2 linked regions of the Homo sapiens genome follow. The protein of the gene in region 1 purifies or fractionates together with the protein of each later gene. This does not show direct contact. Each region holds a gene or a part of one and is shown on either strand. Other genes may lie near its edges.

Region 1 (3,814 bases):
GACTGAGGGGAGTTTCCAGTTCTGTGAATGTCATCCCTCCCTCCCCATGTTGCAGTGGCCTTCTAAGCATATTCTTCCTGCCTTTACCTCCTCTCCCAAGGCCAACTGCCAGATGAGTCTTCCGAAAACACTGCTCAGAAGGTGCCAATGGCCGGGTGTGGTGGCTCATGCCTGTAATCCCAGCACTTTGGGAGGCCCAGGTGGGCGGACCACTTGAGGTCAGGAGTTTGAGACCAGCCTGGCCAACATGGTGAAACCCCGTCTCTACTAAAAATACAAAAATCAGCCAGGCGTGGTGGCACATGTCTGTAATCCCAGCAACTTGGGAGGCAGGAGAATCACTTGAACCCAGGAAGCGGAGGTTACAGTGAGCTGAGATGGTGCCACTGCACTCTAGCCTCAGTGACGGTGAGACTCTTTTTTTTTTTTTTTGAGACTCTGTCTCAGAAGAAAAAAAAAAAGTTGTCATTGACCTGCTCCCTGCTGCCTGCAAAAAATGACTGAGACTTCTTGGCTTGGCATTAGAGACTCCGAAGTCTCGCCAGCCCACCCCTTCCCCAGGCACACTTTGCAGAGTTCCTTCTGCAGGGACTGTCTTCCTTCTCTTGTTGATATTGACCTGGTTCTTCAAGTTTTAGTTGAGATGTGATCTTGGTAAAGCCTTCCCTGTTCCAGCCTGTTAGAAGTTACCCCTGTTTTTCTGAGAGGTCACTACTTTCCACCTCTCCTGCGGCCTCACACTACTTCCTTGTAGCTTCGTTATTCAATGCGGTTTTATATCGTCTTCTCCATGACACATTTCTTGAGGACTAGGTGTTAGTCATCCTCATGTTGCTTGTGGCATCTAGCATAGTGTCTTGTACATAGTGGGCACTTAGAATGAACAAATGATTTCATGAGTGGCTACTCAGTTCTGTGGTGCAGTAAAGTGTGAGGTCAGAGAGGTGTGGGCAGGCAGGGACACTGGAGAGGGCTTGGTGGAGCTGCTGGGGACTGAACCTCACTGGGGACTTTCACGATCCAGACAGTTAGTGGGATACAGAGCACCTTGGGCAGAGGAGTGGCCCCAGCAAAGACCTAGAGGCAGAAATGCACAGCTGTGGGGAGGGATGATTAGAATTCTTTTTTTCCTGAAAACATTTACTCTGCAAGAAAAGCGAAGGAATGGTGTTGTTGTTGTTGTTGTTGTTGTTTTTGAGAAGTTTTCAGGGAAAGTGATTGTTCTCAGTGCAAGGCCAGTATCAGCCATGGTGTAGAGATGGAGAGAGCACTCATGGAAAAGGGGGAGGTTAGGGGCTTGCCCAGAGCAGAACCAGAATTTTCCAGGGCTTGATAGAAGGAGCCGGTAGAGGAGGAAACGAGAACAGCACTGGCTGAGGAGTTGGGGTTGTGCAGGCTCAGGCTTTGGACACAAGATGAAAGCATGTAAGCATGTTATAAGGAAGGCACATTGTTAATATCATGCTAATGTTACCTACCCTTCCGGCTGAACAGAGCCTGTGGTGGTCTTGAACAGATTTTCATAGACTCTCAGATTGAGAGGAATGGAAAAGCTTTGTCTTTTTTTTTTTTTTTTTTTTTTTTTTGAGATAGGGTCTCACCTTGTCACCTAGGCTGGAGTGCAGCGCTGCGATCACAATTCACTGAAGCCTTGACCTCCCTGGGCTCAGGTGATCCTCGCACCCCAGCCTCCCAAGTAGCTGGGACTATAGGCAGACACCACCACGTCCTGCTAGTTTTTAAATTGTTTATAGAGACAGAGCTTCATCATGTTGCCGAGGCTGGTTTAAACTCCTGGACTCGAGCCGTCTGCCCACCTTTGCCTCACAAACTGTTGGGCTTACAGGCGTGAGCCACTGCACCTGACCTTTGCCACATTTTCGATCTGTATCATTTTGCTTTTCTTTGGGGGACTGCGCTCCCGTGTTCCTCTATGTGCCTCTACTGTAGCGTAACCATGCTGTGTTGAAATAATCTGTGTCTGTTTCCCCCAGCAACATTCTTAGCACCTCCAGGACAGAGACAGGACAGGATTGTGACATACAGCAAGAAAACAGCATTTCCAGGAGGGAGGGGTATCTAGGGAGAAGTGCCTGTCAGGAGATCCTTGGCAAGATGACAGTGTGTCCTGGAGGAAATGTGTTATTCCTCCCTTTGAAAGCCAGGGAGCAGGGTGCCTCCTCATGAGGAGGCCTAGCATGAACCTGACACTCAGAATATCTGTTCCCATGCGGGCAGGGGCTCCCTGGCCTTTGTGGCCCCCACTGAGGTTGTGTGTCTGCCCTCCGCAGCGCGAGCCCAGCATTGACCTGCTGCAGGCCTTCGTGGAGCACTGGAAGGGCATCACGCACTACTACATCGAGAGCACAGGTGCGGCCTGGCCCTCCCCAGCCCAGGGACCCTGGAGGGAGCGGGGAGGAAGGAGTGTGCAGAGTGTCACCATTCAGGTGTCCTGGGAAAGGTAACCTGCCCAGTCGTTCAGAATTGGAGCCGAGTTCACGGAGACAGAGAACCAGACAGACAGAAGACCCAGAGCCCTGGGCCACTCCACTCCTGATGATTTAGCTGCCGGTCCCACTCTGACCTTTTGGAAAGAGGCTGTGTGAGGAAGGAGTAGCCTGGTTGGGGGTCTCACTGGCCTGACTCTGCAAGGAAGAGGTGGCTGCACTTCCCCCAGCTTCCAGCTCCAGACCTTCAGGCCCCAGGTGCTTGTGCCTAGGATTTAATGATCAAAAGAAAAGAATTTAATAAATTCCCCTTTCCCCTGAGCCAGCTTAGGGGCAATGTCCTTGTAGAGATCTGGGGTAGGAGGAGAACGAAAACCAAGGTGGGTAACATGCCTGGGTCCCTCTCTCCAAGCTGACACCCCAAAGAGCCAAAGCCTTGGCACCTGGTCCCATCAGGACCGCTCACTGAGGGGATGGCATCTGAGTGGCTGCTCTGCAGTCATGAGGCTGCCATGGGTGGATACGGACTGGTTGCCAGGTAACCATATCCTGCATCCCTCACTTTTCCCTTCCTGGAGTTCATACTGGGGCTTGATCCCAGCCCACACCTTTCCTACAGGCTTTCTTTCCAGCCCGGGCCAGCCCAGGAAATTCAGAAATCTGTGGGACCCTCTGAGGGTTCTGCTAGACCAGGTTTCTCAATCTTGGCACAGTTGGCATTGGACCTGGAGCCTTCCCTGCGCGGGGCTGTCCTGGGCGGTGTGGGATGTGCAGCAGTAATTCTGGCCTCTACCCACTAGGTGCCAGTAGCACACCCCACCCCCGAATTGGGACAACCAGGAAGGTCTCCAGACATTGCCTCATGTTCCCTGGGGGGGAAAAGCGCACCCCTGGTTCTGAACCTATCTCTTCAGGTTAAAGATCTCTTGAAGGAGAGCCTCAGTCCACCAGCTCAGTAAGATCAGATCAGAACTGGCTGAAATTCACCTGGGGCTTCCCCCATCCAGCCCTTTCATTTCCAGAATGGTCCCTAGACCAGAAGGGTTGGAAGTGCGTGGGGCAGGCCGCCCTACTCAAGCTCCTGTTCCTTAAAGGAAAGCTAGGGGGTGCTCCAAGTCTAGCCCTGAAGCACCAGAACTTTCTTTAAAACACACACTGAGACTCTGACTGCAAAAGCCCCCACTAAGTAGCTTCCCCGTCAGGGCGTTGGTACAGGGAGCAGGACTGGGTCAGACCTGAAGGTGGTGGCACAGATGTTTTTTTCTGCTTTGTGAAAAACAGAGGCTTGCCTTCTCTGAGTGTCAGTGGGGGAGGCCCCAGGAGGTTCTCTCTCAGGCAGCTGCTGGAATTACAGCTTCTAAGTTATG
Region 2 (3,814 bases), on another chromosome or scaffold:
TTTCATGTTCCAGCATGCCTGAGACTGCAGGAGTATTTCAATTGTTAGAGGAGATGATGTGGAAGGGAACCTTTCATGTGCACATATCCATGTGCACAAACACATGCACATTCAACTTAGGAAAATTAGCTGGGCACGGTGGCTCACATCTGTAATCCCAGCACTTTGGGAGGCCGCCGAGGTGGGTGGATCACTGGAGGCCAGGAGTTCAAGACCAGCCTGGCCAACATAAGGAAACCCCGTCTCTATTGAAAATACAAAAATTAGCCAGGCGTGGTAGCGTGTGCCTGTAATCCCAGCTACTCAGAAGGCTGAGGCAGGACAATCACTTGAACTTGGGAGGCAAAGGCTGCAGTGAGCTGAGACCACATATCTGGGCTCCAGGCTGGGTGACAGAGAGAGACTCCATTTCAAAAAAGAAAAAAATGATCTGGGTGCCAAAATAGAGGGAAAAGGAACTTCACTACAAAAGGGCTTCCGGATTTTAAACTTTACTGAAGGAATAATTCTTAATTGCAAAAATTTACTATGAATCTAAGTAAACTTAATGGTGTCTTTTCTAAAATAAGAAGCGTTAAGAAGCAGTAGCCTTGTGATAGAACAAGTGTGTGTGTCTTGGGTGGGCTTTTGAGAGTGGTAGGTAGCAGTTCGGGTTAAGATAAGCATTCTCCATGTTATCTGAGCCCCAGAGGCAAAAACAGTAAGAAAAGCAGGGCACTGACAACCATCTTGGAGAAAACGTGGGAGAGGGGAGTGGTATGGGTCTGGAGAGCTGGGCCCTTCCTTATTCTGGGTTTCCCACAACAGCAGTGGGCCCTTGGGCTGACCTCCATCTCCCAGAATTCGTCTTCTCACCTGTGGCCCGGCTGCTTCCCTGTTGTGCTCTCTTAGCATTTGGCTTATGCCTCCCTTAGAATGTTTCTGAGATGTCCACTCCCTGACAGCAAGCCCCTTGAGAGCAAAGGCCACGTCTGGTTCATCTTGCTATTTAATTGTGCTAAACACAGATTCCCTAGAACCGGCATGTTTGTTGTTGCTGTTAAATGACTGGGAGATGGGGGTAAGGATTTAGATTGGGGCTTCTTTGAGGCGAACTTCTTATTCAGCCAATAGAAACAGGCAAAGCAATAGAAAAACTGGCTGAAGTTGACCTTGGTATCTGTGTTACCTCCTAAATTTTTGCCAACCTAGGGTGCTTTAATGACGTTTTAAGGGACATCTGAAGAAAACATTGCCATCTCCCATGGCTTCTTCAGCTTTTGATGTCTCAAATAGCTAGTTAACTGTGGCCTATGAAAGCAAAGGGAACACTATGAGCCCACAGAAGGGAAATGAAGAAGTTGTGGAAACATGGAAAATGCATGCATGGGGAAAGAAAGTGTAGCTGGAAGTAGCCTTAAGAGCCTGCTGATAGGCTGGGTGCAGGGGCTCACACCTGTAATCCCAGCACTTTGGGAGGCCGAGGTGAGTGGCTCACAAGGTCAGGAGATTGAGACCATCCTGGCTAACACGGTGAAACCCCGTCTCTACTAAAAATGCAAAAAATTAACTGGGCGTGGTGGCAGGCACCTGTAGTCCCAGCTACACGGGAGGCTGAGGCAGGAGAATGGCGTGAACCCGGGAGGCAGAGCTTGCAGTGAGCTGAGATCGCGCCACTGCACTCCAGCCTGGGCGACAGAGCGAGACTCTGTCTCAAAAAAAAAAAAAAGGGAGCCTGCTGATAATTTGCTGGAAGATAACAATGTTTGGTAACTTAAGACAATTTTTTAAAATTCAATGCATTCAACTGAATTTAAACAGTAAACATTAGGGAAGGAAACCATATACTACTGTTTCAGTCTTGTGGAAACAGTGATTTCGATGTATCCCAGTTAACTATGGCTGGGTTTCTGGGATTCCTCGGCTAATTTTAGCCCTGTATCTTACTACTTTATGCTCCCCAAATGAATACCTGCCCTGAAACATGTGCCACTGGTGGCTACTTATCGATGGGCATGAATGATAGGCAGGCTGCAATGCCCAGTGGGGCCCTGGCCTTACCAATCATTGGCTGAAGGATGTTCTCTAACACCCGCACGAGCTGCTGGTAGATCTGAATGGCCAAGTCACTCAGCACCTGCCGATACTCAGCCAGGTCAAAATTGGTGAGGCAGTGTTCATTCTGGCGAGATGTGTTGTGCTTCATAAAGCCCTAGAGTCATAAGGCAAAGTTAATGATACACATGAAGTAACCTGTCTCTTCAGTTTAACTATCTCCAATTTGATCAGCATCTTCATGCTCTTTTCTGCTCTGTCCAAGGAGCTTCCCCACTAATGCCAGGACTGACATTCTCAAATGCTGATGTGTGTTTGTTTGCTTCCATCATAACCCCCTCCAGTTCTTACTAGCTTTTGAACAATACCTTAACTTGGCAACCTAGCATTTAAGTCTTCCCAATAGCAATGTCAATGAAGCAAATTGGAGGAACTTAACTAAAAAAAAAAAAAAAAAAAAAAAATAGAGTGTTTCACTTCTGAAACAGCAGGTTTACTGTCAAACACTAAATTATCTAAATTATCTCTTAACTTCAGTTCTTTATAGTCCTATTCTTAAAAACTACACCCAAAGGACATATATAATCTTGAAATAGACCGATTTCTACAGAGACTAGTGAATACATACAAAAAGTTCTCTTTACTCTATTTCGTAGTACCCACACCATGGTTTTCAGTCAGAGGTTAGAAGGGAATCTTTGGTGGTATCTGTTAAAATGGAACTGAATGGGCGGCACTTCTTCCAGTCACTTTGCAGTTTAACACGTTGTTTGCCTGATGCTACGTGATAAAGGCAAGTGCTTACTCTGAGGATTCTCCCTACAGCCAAGCATCTGCCTCCTTACCACCTACTTAATGACTGGTCCGAAAGTGGGGACTGATAGGATGCAGTCAACGACCCCTCTGAGGGATTCTGGTCTGTTGGCCCCATCTTCTCAGGGACTAGGCCTTGCTCATCTCTGTGTTTCCCATCATCTGCCTGTCAGTGCTCAGGAAGTGCCGCTGGGCACCTTCTCTGCTGCCCTCCTGGCAAAGGGATGGGAGGCATGGAGGGCAGTTGGCTAGGGTCATGGGCCCTCAGCGGTGCCAGACCCAGGATCCCAGCTCTGCTCCTTGTGGCCAAGAGAACTTGGGTAAATCAATGAGCCCCAGTGAGCCTTGGCTTCCTCATCTGTAAAACTGGACTATAATTCCTACCTCACAGAGATGCTGTAAGAATTAATGATCATAAATAACACCATATACAGTAAGTGCTGTCTGACACATACTAAAGCAGCCCTTAATAGTCATTATTAATATTCTACATAGTTTTGAAATATTTGAAGTCTATCAAACAACTAATGAACATATCCCCACAAACAAAAACAATAGAGTTTTTTTGGACAAATCGAAAGACATGATTTTTGATCACCCTTTTTTTTTTTAGAGTTAAAGGATTTTAAGGTCCTCTTATTGTCCAAGAGTATTAATATTAAAATTTTCTTTTTTTTTTTTAAACTTTAAGTTTTAGGGTACATGTGCACAATGTGCAGGTTAGTTACATATGCATACATGTGCCATGTTGGTGTGCTGCATCCATTAACTCATCATTTAACATTAGGTATATCTCCCAATGCCATCCCTCCCCCCGATTTTTGATCACCTTTTAATGTATTGTGGCAAGCCAAAATTGATTAATTTCTTTAAATAGTTCACTATTCTGATATTAGCTCTTGAAATGCCCACTAAAACATACTGACAAAAAGTTTTACTTCTGGTAACTATTCACTGACCAATGCTT

What was found.
Region 2: the proteins of FHIP2B (region 1) and MYO5A purify together in Homo sapiens (affinity purification with mass spectrometry; one large-scale study listed by BioGRID and IntAct). This does not show direct contact.

What each region holds. Positions count from the first base shown.
Region 1 is NC_000008.11:22,092,149-22,095,962, forward strand, and holds part of FHIP2B (FHF complex subunit HOOK-interacting protein 2B), read left to right. Parts: intron 1-2,291; coding exon 2,292-2,370; intron 2,371-2,461; exon of another isoform or gene 2,462-2,705; intron 2,706-3,814. UniProt on the Homo sapiens protein: Able to activate MAPK/ERK and TGFB signaling pathways. May regulate the activity of genes involved in intestinal barrier function and immunoprotective inflammation. May play a role in cell proliferation.
Region 2 is NC_000015.10:52,319,319-52,323,132, forward strand, and holds part of MYO5A (unconventional myosin-Va), read right to left. Parts: intron 2,192-3,814; coding exon 2,041-2,191; intron 25-2,040; coding exon 1-24. UniProt on the Homo sapiens protein: Processive actin-based motor that can move in large steps approximating the 36-nm pseudo-repeat of the actin filament. Can hydrolyze ATP in the presence of actin, which is essential for its function as a motor protein. Involved in melanosome transport.